Linked DNA regions of Homo sapiens: region 2 is linked to region 1. The links come from fine-mapping of genetic effects on gene expression. Tissue or cell type: atrial appendage. Region 1 holds a variant in brackets; the other region holds the start of a gene. All regions are shown on one strand. Distances are from middle to middle.

Region 1 (4,397 bases):
GTAGATGGTAACTATGTAAACAGACCTTAAATATGGAGCTGGGCAGAGGAAAAGAAGAAAGGCATAGATAGAGGGTGATTTGATTCATATGGTGTTTTAGTCAGGCGGAAAGTAGTAGGGGAAAAATTGAATAGATATGAGTAGTTGCAGATGAGAAAAAGAAAAACTCTTTACCTAGATGGTGAAATATACTTAAAGAATGGACTAATTTAGGTAAAGATGCAAAGTTGAGGAAGTAAATTGTTTTCAAAGGGCTCTGCTGTGATCATTCATTCCGTCATGGGGCTGGGGTGTGAATGGAAACATTCATTCAACCACGTCTAATAGGCTCAGCAAAGGCCCATGGAGCCCATCACTGAATTATATATTTTAGACAGAAAATAAATAGAACTTTAATTGTAGAACAATTTATGTAATAGGTGCTGGGGTATAAGAGGCGCTTAACTTTCAGAGCAAATTCTAGTGGGAAAAGTGCACAGCTCTCTGGCTTAGCAAACAGCAAATTGTGTCTAGGTAAATAAGTGACAAACAAGAATTAATAAGGTGGTAAAATGTTAAAATAAGAACGAGCTTCAACATTTTGAACCTGAATATATTTGTTGTTAGTGGTTGTTCGTTATATTTGAAAGGCCGTGTGAGCAACCTAGGAGATAAAATTTTACTGGAGATGTTCAAGAGTAAAATTTTACTTGCGCCATAACTAAACTTGTATTTACTCGGGATATGAAAGCAACTTCATAATTAACCTGCAACAGAAGTAGCAAGACTGCTTACCTATCATCCTGCCACTGATGCTCTTCTGCAGTTCCTTGAAGAAAGGATACAGCTGCTTCCTTACTGTTTTCAAGGTTTCTTCTAGGAAGTCTGTGAAGCTGGACCACGTCTGTAGCTTCGATTCGCAGAAGTAGATGGAAGAGGGGGCCTTTCCCCATTGGGATCCCAGCCAATCACTAAGAACTGACATGATTTTCTTCTGTTATTATTGCAGGCTTGAGCTCAGATGAAACAATTCTACATCTTGTTTAAAGTACAACAAAATCTTAGTTGCATTTGTATTGAGTTTATTATCGTTTCTCATTAGAAGACTAAGACAAACACCCATCCTCTGTTTTCAAAGGTAAAATTAGAAACTCGAAAAGGATTCAATGAATCATTTCAAATGCATGTCTACTCTTTGATAGCTGAGGCTGACATATTCCATTCAATGTTTAAAGAAAAAAAACAGCTGCTGGATTGTGCATTGGGAAGCTGAGCTGTCATCTGAGGAAGAATGCACTGCTTTATCTTTCCAGTCTAAAAGTGAAAACACAAGAAATCCCACGCTACACGGCTTCCCCATCAGGCCATTGGAAGTCAACCCTGTCATCGCCAATGGAAGTCAACCCTGTCATCACCAAATCCTTATCTTTCTTAAATTATGTCAAACTGCTACCTCGCTCTACAAATCTGTCTACAGGACTGTAGCAGGTGCTTAAAGAAAGTTTCTCTTCTTAAAAAACAATTACTGGATGATGCAGTGGTGTGTTAAATTTGATTTTCTGTCCTGAATGGATACATAGTGTATTTGCTTTGTTTCCTCTACTGTTACTGATAGACATGTGAAAAGGTTCACAACATGTTTTTGTTTCTGTTTGAGACAGTCTTGCTCTGTCACCCAGTCTGGAGTATGGTGGCACGACCTCAGCTCACTGCAACCTTCGCCTCCCGGGTTCAGGCAATTCTCGTGCCTCAGCCTCCTGAGTAGCTGGGATTACAGATGTGTGCCACTACTGCCCAGCTTATTTTTGTATTTTTAGTAGAGACGGGGTTTCACCATGTTGGGCAGGCTGGTCTCGAACTCCTGACCTCAGGTGATCTGCCTGCTTCAGCCTCCCAAAGTGCTGGGATTACAGGTGTGAGCCACTGCGCCCGGCCACAACATGCTTTTTTTTTTTTTTTTTTTTTTTTTTTAAATACGGAGAATGAGAACAAGAGAGGGAAAAGGAGGATGAACAGGAGGAAAGGAAGGCAGAGGAGGAGAAAAAGAAGAAAACCTGTTCCCGGCCAGATGCGGTGGCTCACGCCTGTAATCCCAACACTGGGAGGCTGAGGCGGGCGGATCACAAGGTCAGGAGATCAAGACCATCCAGGCCAACATGGTGAAACCCCGTCTCTACTAAAAATACAAAAATTAGTCGGGCGTGGTGGCACATGCCTGTAGTCCCAGCTACTCAGGAGGCTGAGGCAGGAGAATCGCCTGAACCCAGGAGGCGGAGGTTGCAGTGAGCCTAGATCGAGAACGTGCCGCTGCACTCCAGCCTGGCAACAGTGTGAGACTCTGTCTCAAAAAAAAAAAAAGAAAGAAAACCTGTTCCCTATTACCAGCAACAGCGTTCATACCCTGCTGTGCTCTGCTAGGCCAGTTCCTCTCTCCGCAGAGCCAAATGTGCTACCGTTTGGTGACGCTGCTATATTAACTAAAATTAGCAAGTGACCTCTGCTTCAAAACTATGTTAGGTCAAAGCACTTTTGTTATATCTACAAAGAAT[A/C]TTTTCCCTTACCAGTTTCACAGTTGTGCCAGCTTTCCCAAGTTCTAAAAGGCCCTTGGCATTTAGGAGTAGAGAAGCAATGATTTATATAGTTTCTGCATCACTCTCAGCCCTACTTGATAGGAATCAAGGGTGTTTTAAAGAGGAAAATGAGTGGTGTCGGTGTAACAAAGCAATTTGGTTCTGTTGTTGGTCAGCCCGTGTTACATTTTAATCTAAATTTGCAGCTTTAGTATCTAAATGAAAGTTTGCTTTCAGGTGTATTTTCTCTGATTGTTTTTCCTCTCAGATAATGCTACTGTAATGGAAACTAAGCCAGCCTCTTTGCCATCTCTTTGTAGCTACGATTTATTTTTCCAAATAAAACCATATTGACTATATATATGTTACTAAGAAAAGTTTTTCTTTGTACTTCTTACTTTTCTAGATCAGCAACTTTGCTTAATTGCTAAAGATTATGTTTTCAACAGTTTTTGAAAATGATGATTTGGGGCAAATATGTGCAATAAATAATCCTGTTCTAAGCAAATGACTGAATGATAGGAGATTACCTAGTTTGGGAACTAATAGCGTTCCTTCAGGGGAGGAATGAAAGAGAGTAATGGATATCAGCCATACCAGTACTATTAACTGGATTTTGTCTTTTGGTGATTCTGGAGTTGGCTTGTGTTATTGGACGTGGCGCTCAGCTCCCATAACACTTACTGTGCTGGTAAGAGCCAGTTGCAATCCCAGTGGGGGCCGTAAAGAACGTGCCAGTTAGTTGAGACAGCTGGGAAAGAACTTCAATTCCTGCCTCTGCATAGTCAAAAACACTTTCGTTAGTTTCCTCATATATTTTGCCATGGAAGATCATATAACTTGGATATTTGTTCCCTCCAAATCTCATGTTGAAATCTAATCCCCAACGTTGGAGGTGGGGCCTGGCAGGAGGGATCATGAGGGCGGATCCCTCATGAATAACTAGTGCCATCCCCTTAGTGATGAGTGAGTTCTCACTCTGAGTTCACACAAGATCTGGTTGTTTAAAAGTGTGTGGCACCTCCTCCCTCTCTCTTGTTCCTGCTCTTGCCATGTGACACACCACCTGCCCCTTCACCTTCTGCCGTGATTATAAGCTCCCTGAGGCCCTCACCAGATGCCAAGCAGATGCCAGTGGCATGCTTCCTATACAGCCTGGAGAACCATGAAGTAATTAAACCTCTTCTCTTTATAAATTACCCATCCTCAGGTATTTCTTTATAGCAATGCAAGAACAGACTAATCCAGAGCAGTTAAATATTACGTAGGGGCACTAAAGAGATGGCCAAGAAAGGCCACTAGCAGTTCTCATCTTCCATTCAAACCTCTCCATTGAACAGTCCATGAACACTTCATCATTCACCCCTAAATATTGAAGCTGAAACAGTCTGAGGACTAAACTACAGGATGGGGAAAGAGGGCATGGAGTTTGATCTGAGGCTTATTTTCAGATTTGGAATACCCAGCCCAAAGAAAGAGAAAAATCTATATATTTTTTTCTAAAATAGTCTGACTCAAAGGAGAAGTCTCATTGTAAGAGGACAGATTTTAAAAAGTTAAAAACAGGATGGAATATGATGGTTAAAATTTAGCCCCTTCCCTGGGCAAAGACTTCATGACTAAAACACCAAAAGCAATTGCAACAAAAGCCAGAATTGACAAGTGGGATCTAATTAAACTAAAAAGCTTCTGCACAGCAAAAGAAACTATCATCAGGGTGAACAGGCAACCTACAGAATGGGAGAAAATTTTTGCAATCTATCCATCTGACAAAGGGCTAATATCCAGAATCTACAAGGAACTTAAACAAATTTACAAGAAAAAAAAATCCCCATCAAAATGTGGGCA
Region 2 (4,397 bases), 67 kb after region 1:
GTAGATAGGGATGCTAGGAGAATCTTTTGTTCTAATATTTGGTTTTTGACCCCAGTTCCTGACACAGAGCTCCGAAATCCCTTGGAATTTCCTGGGTGATAGGAGCATCTTTTGTTCAGATGAAGTGAATCTTGGTGGACCCCTAGATAGCTTCAGGATGGGGGCTGGTTACCAGGGAAACCAACCATGTGATTATGCAGCTGGAACTTTCAGCTCCATCCTCTGACCTCTGGGGAAGAGAGAAGGGCTCAAGTTGAGTGATCACCAATGGCCAATGATGTCATCAATTGTGCCTATGAATGAATCCTCCATTAAAATCCCAAAGGACAAGATTCAGGGATCTTTGGGATAGCTGAACATGTGGAGGGGCTGAGAAGGCATGGAAGTTCCACACCCTTGCCCACATACCTTTCTCTGGGCCTCTCTTCTATCTGGCTATTCATCTGTCCTTTGTAATATCCTTTATAATAAATGGGCAAACATAAGTAAAGTGTTTCCTTGAATTCCGTGAGTCACTCTAGCAAATTAATCAAACCGGAGGAGGGGCTTGTGGGAATCCAGATTTGTAACTGGTTGGTTAATCATAAACAACATATAGTCACAACCTGGGACTTGTGATTGGCATTTGAAGTGGGGGGCAGTCTTTTGGGACTGAGCCCTGAACGTATGGGATCTGACACTAACTCCAGGTACACAGTGTCAGAACTGGGTTAAATTATAGGACGTAGAGTTGGTGGCCACTGGAGAATTGGTTGTCGGTGGGAAGAAATTCCCATACATTTTGGTGACAAGAGGTGAAGGGCTGTACTGAGTGTGTGAGAGTAAAGAGAAAAAAGTTTTTTGTTTTTTTTTTCCTCTCAGAACAACCAAAGCCAGATTAAAAGATGAAATGGCTGAACAATTGCCAGCCCATATAGAGAGCTAAATCCTCACTGGGATCACACAGAAGAGCAATGATGTCAATTAACTGTGTTTCCACAGGTTATCTGTTATACAGCTGGAGAAATGCAAGTTAGTCTGGTCCTTCTCCACTACAGTAGACAGAGTGGCTTAGAAATTAAAACACTGCTCCTCGGCAGAGGTATGTACCTACATGCGCGTACTTCTGCAATTCACACATGCAAATTGTGCAATGATTCCTTTATTTATCAAAAATTTACTTCCTTAAATATGCCTCCAAAAAGGTATCTGGTTCTAAAGATCGCACAAAAGAACGGGAGTAGAAGAAAAGTAAGTGTGATTGGTGAAAAAACAGAAATGAAAGACAATTCCAGTTGAGTTAAATGTCCCACATTTAGGGCATGTAAAACTACATGCCAGTATATAATTTTTATTAAGTACACACTAAGCAATGGATAATGAAAATAATGGCGTGTTTTGAGGAAACCTGGGCTATTGATCTTACAGGCGGTGATAGAAAATACCATACTTGTGCTGGTATTTTCAAATGGTGGATGTGCTCACTGATTTATAAGTTTAAAGCTATAAAACTAAAGCTGTAACAAACAAGATGCAACTGTTGCTATAAAACTTCCAAGTCCTTAACCCTTCTTCCTCCCACTGAAATAAGTGTTTGTAGAGCATGATTTTTGAGGTTTCTGTGGAGCACAAATGTCAGTTCCTGCAGAACAGACTTTAACAGGCTTGGATACAATTGCATGGGTTGCAGTGAACTTTAACACCAATGATGTCAGGATATTGTGTTCTGATACATATGCAAAGTTTATTAATAAGCACAGCATCGGTATTTTTAAATCGATATTTTAAAGTACCACTGTTTTATTTGTCCTGCTCATCAAATCTTAGCATATTAACTCTTAGAGCTATCCTTATAACCAAGACCTATATTCACAGTAGATTTTTTGTATTCCTCCCTCATTCCCCCAACCCAGCCCCCACCCTACTCCCTACATTTTTGGACCCCATAGGAGGAAAGAGGGAGAGAACTGTCAGAAGGAAGAAGGCAGTTGGTGTGAACCTATGAAAATCAGCGTTTTCCAAAGTGTTCAAGAACTTTACTTCGATCCCAAATCAGTTCTCTGGAGGAGGTAAGAGTTTACTTGGCATGGCCCGATGCAAACCCTACCCTACGCGTGGATTTTGTTTCTCCCCAGAGCCTCTTCAGAATCTTGGTTAATTCCAGAGCTGCTAAGGGACTCCAGGGTCGCGGAGGGAGGGCCCTGCGCCCCTCAGCGCTGCTTAGGGTCTTCCTGGGCGACTGCACTGGGAAACTAAGCCGGCCCAGGCGATGTGCCCCGGGCGGCCCCAAGAAAAAGACTAGCGGCTCAGAAGCCACGGGCTTTACCTCTAGGAAGTGGCTATGAGGCCCGGTACAGTGGCGGCTGTCTCCTCTTGGAACCGCGCAGTGAAAATCGAGTGCGCCAACTCGGGCCGCAGCTCCGGAGAGGGGTGGGGCAGGGACAGGGTCATCTCCATAGGGATCCAACAACACGGAGCCACCACCCCGCCCCACAGGCCCGCAGCCCCTCCCGCCGCCGCGCCCGGACGGCCAACCTGCATCTCCCCAGCTGCAGTGAGCAAAGCCGCCCGCGCCGTGCGAGCCACCGCCCTTCTCTTGAGGCCAGCTAGGCTCGGGTCCCGGCTCCTTTCCCTGCCTCCAGGGAGCTTGCGGTGGGAGAAAGCTTCCGTGGGGTCCCGTGGGTCGCGGCACGTCTCGGAAGCCCTGCGAGGTGCCCAGCAGAGGTGCCAGACCCAAGGCCGTGGGACCCCAAGAAGAGACTTGGACACTGAAGCCAACGTTTGCTTGATCTCAAACAAAGCCAGCGATGTTAATTAAGGCTGTGTGATGAGGAAAGTGGAGTTTCTTATTTTTTGTCACATTCATCTTCAGCAGATCCTCAGAAAATGTTAATATTTACTGCAGAATTACCAATTTCAGCATTATACAGGAGGTACAAAAACAAAACCAAAAAACCCTTCTTCATTAGTTTCAGGTCAAAATGTCTTTTAACTATTTATTGTGAAGCCTGTTTTTTTCTTTTGTATGTAATAGTTATGGCCATGAAAAGATGCTCACAGTACATTACTTACAAAAAGCAGCTTAGAAAACCAGCAGAATGGTACGATCTATTTTTTTTGCAACGTGTGTAAGAAATCTGGGAGTATGTACACAAATAGGTTAAATGGTTTGCTCTGGTAGTTTTAAAAATCATCTGTAATTCAATTTTTCCTACAACGAATAAGCAACATCTATGTAATAAACCATAAGTTTCATTCTAGTAAAGTTTCATATGAGAAATGTGATCTTGCTATGCTGCCTAGGCTGGAGTGCAGTGGCTATTCACAGGCCTGGTCATTGTGCACTATATTTTTATTTTTATTTCAAATATCTTTTTCTTTTTCATCTGTATGCCAGTAAAATCATCATTGTACACTATAGCCTAGAACTCCTGGGCTCAAGCAATCCTCCCGCCTCAGCCTCCAGAGTAGCTAAAAGTACTGGTGCCTGTCACCAAACCAGGCCTTAAATTTTATTCTAATCCAGGCACTGCATTTTTTCCTGTTTCCTTGAACATGTGTTTAAGGAGTGTGAAAGGATACAAATTAGATAAGCTAATATTTCGCTACCTGGGACCCATTTAGGGCCCTGTGACACAAAGGGCGAATGAACCAAGTGAATAAACAAGGTCAATCCACTGCTCTGTCACAACCCGCAGGAACCAGCTTTTTGCTTTACTCTATCTCAGGACCAATCCAAGAAAAACATGTCACATGACAAAGTGTCCTTTCGCCCTGTCAGACCCTAGAGTACGACTTTTTCCCCCTTAAATCCCTATTCTCACAACCCAAATGAAGTTTCCTCCATGATGCTGTAATTTTTAAAAGGGGTATTAAAAAGACCAATTTACTGATCAAAATACTTTGAATTCAGAAAGCCAAAAATTATTAAAATCAAGATTTGAAAAATATTCAGTAAGTCCCTCTCCTCCCCTCCCCCAATTAGGTGCTTATTTCTGTGGCCTGGAAACAAGGAGACAGAAGCATGAGCATCTTCTGCAACACAAAGGTAACTGAGTTATAAATAAGCAAAATGTGTTCTATCCATACCATGGCATATGATCAGCCAAAACAAGAAATGAAGTACATGCAATAACATGGATGAAGCTTCAATCCTTGAAAACATCATGCTAAGTAAACGAAACCAGTCACAAAAGGCCACGTATTGTATGATTCCATTTATATAAAATGTCTAGAATAGAAAATCCAGAGAGCTGGAAAGGAGGTTAGTGGCTGCCAAAGGCTGAGGGGATTAGGGGACAAGGAGTGACTGTTAATGGGATTCTTTTTAGTGTGATGAAAATGTTCTAGAATTAGATCACGGTGATGGGTATATAACTCTATGAATCTACTAACAATCACTGAATTGTACACTTTAA

Evidence for each region. PIP is the estimated chance that this variant, and not a neighbour inherited with it, causes the effect.
Region 2: ECT2L starts here. The variant in region 1 is the best candidate, but not a certain one, in a credible set for the expression of ECT2L in atrial appendage (GTEx, PIP 0.75).

What each region holds. Positions count from the first base shown.
Region 1 is chr6:138,861,556-138,865,952 of GRCh38, reverse strand. It overlaps ECT2L (epithelial cell transforming 2 like), which reads right to left. Exons shown (of 22, transcript NM_001077706.3): 11 at 3,234-3,326; 12 at 775-957. Among named protein-coding and RNA genes, the nearest start is that of ECT2L, 68 kb to the right of the region's middle. The variant A/C (reference allele first, on the strand shown) is at 2,529.
Region 2 is chr6:138,794,101-138,798,497 of GRCh38, reverse strand. It overlaps ECT2L (epithelial cell transforming 2 like), which reads right to left and starts at 2,411. Exons shown (of 22, transcript NM_001077706.3): 1 at 2,306-2,411.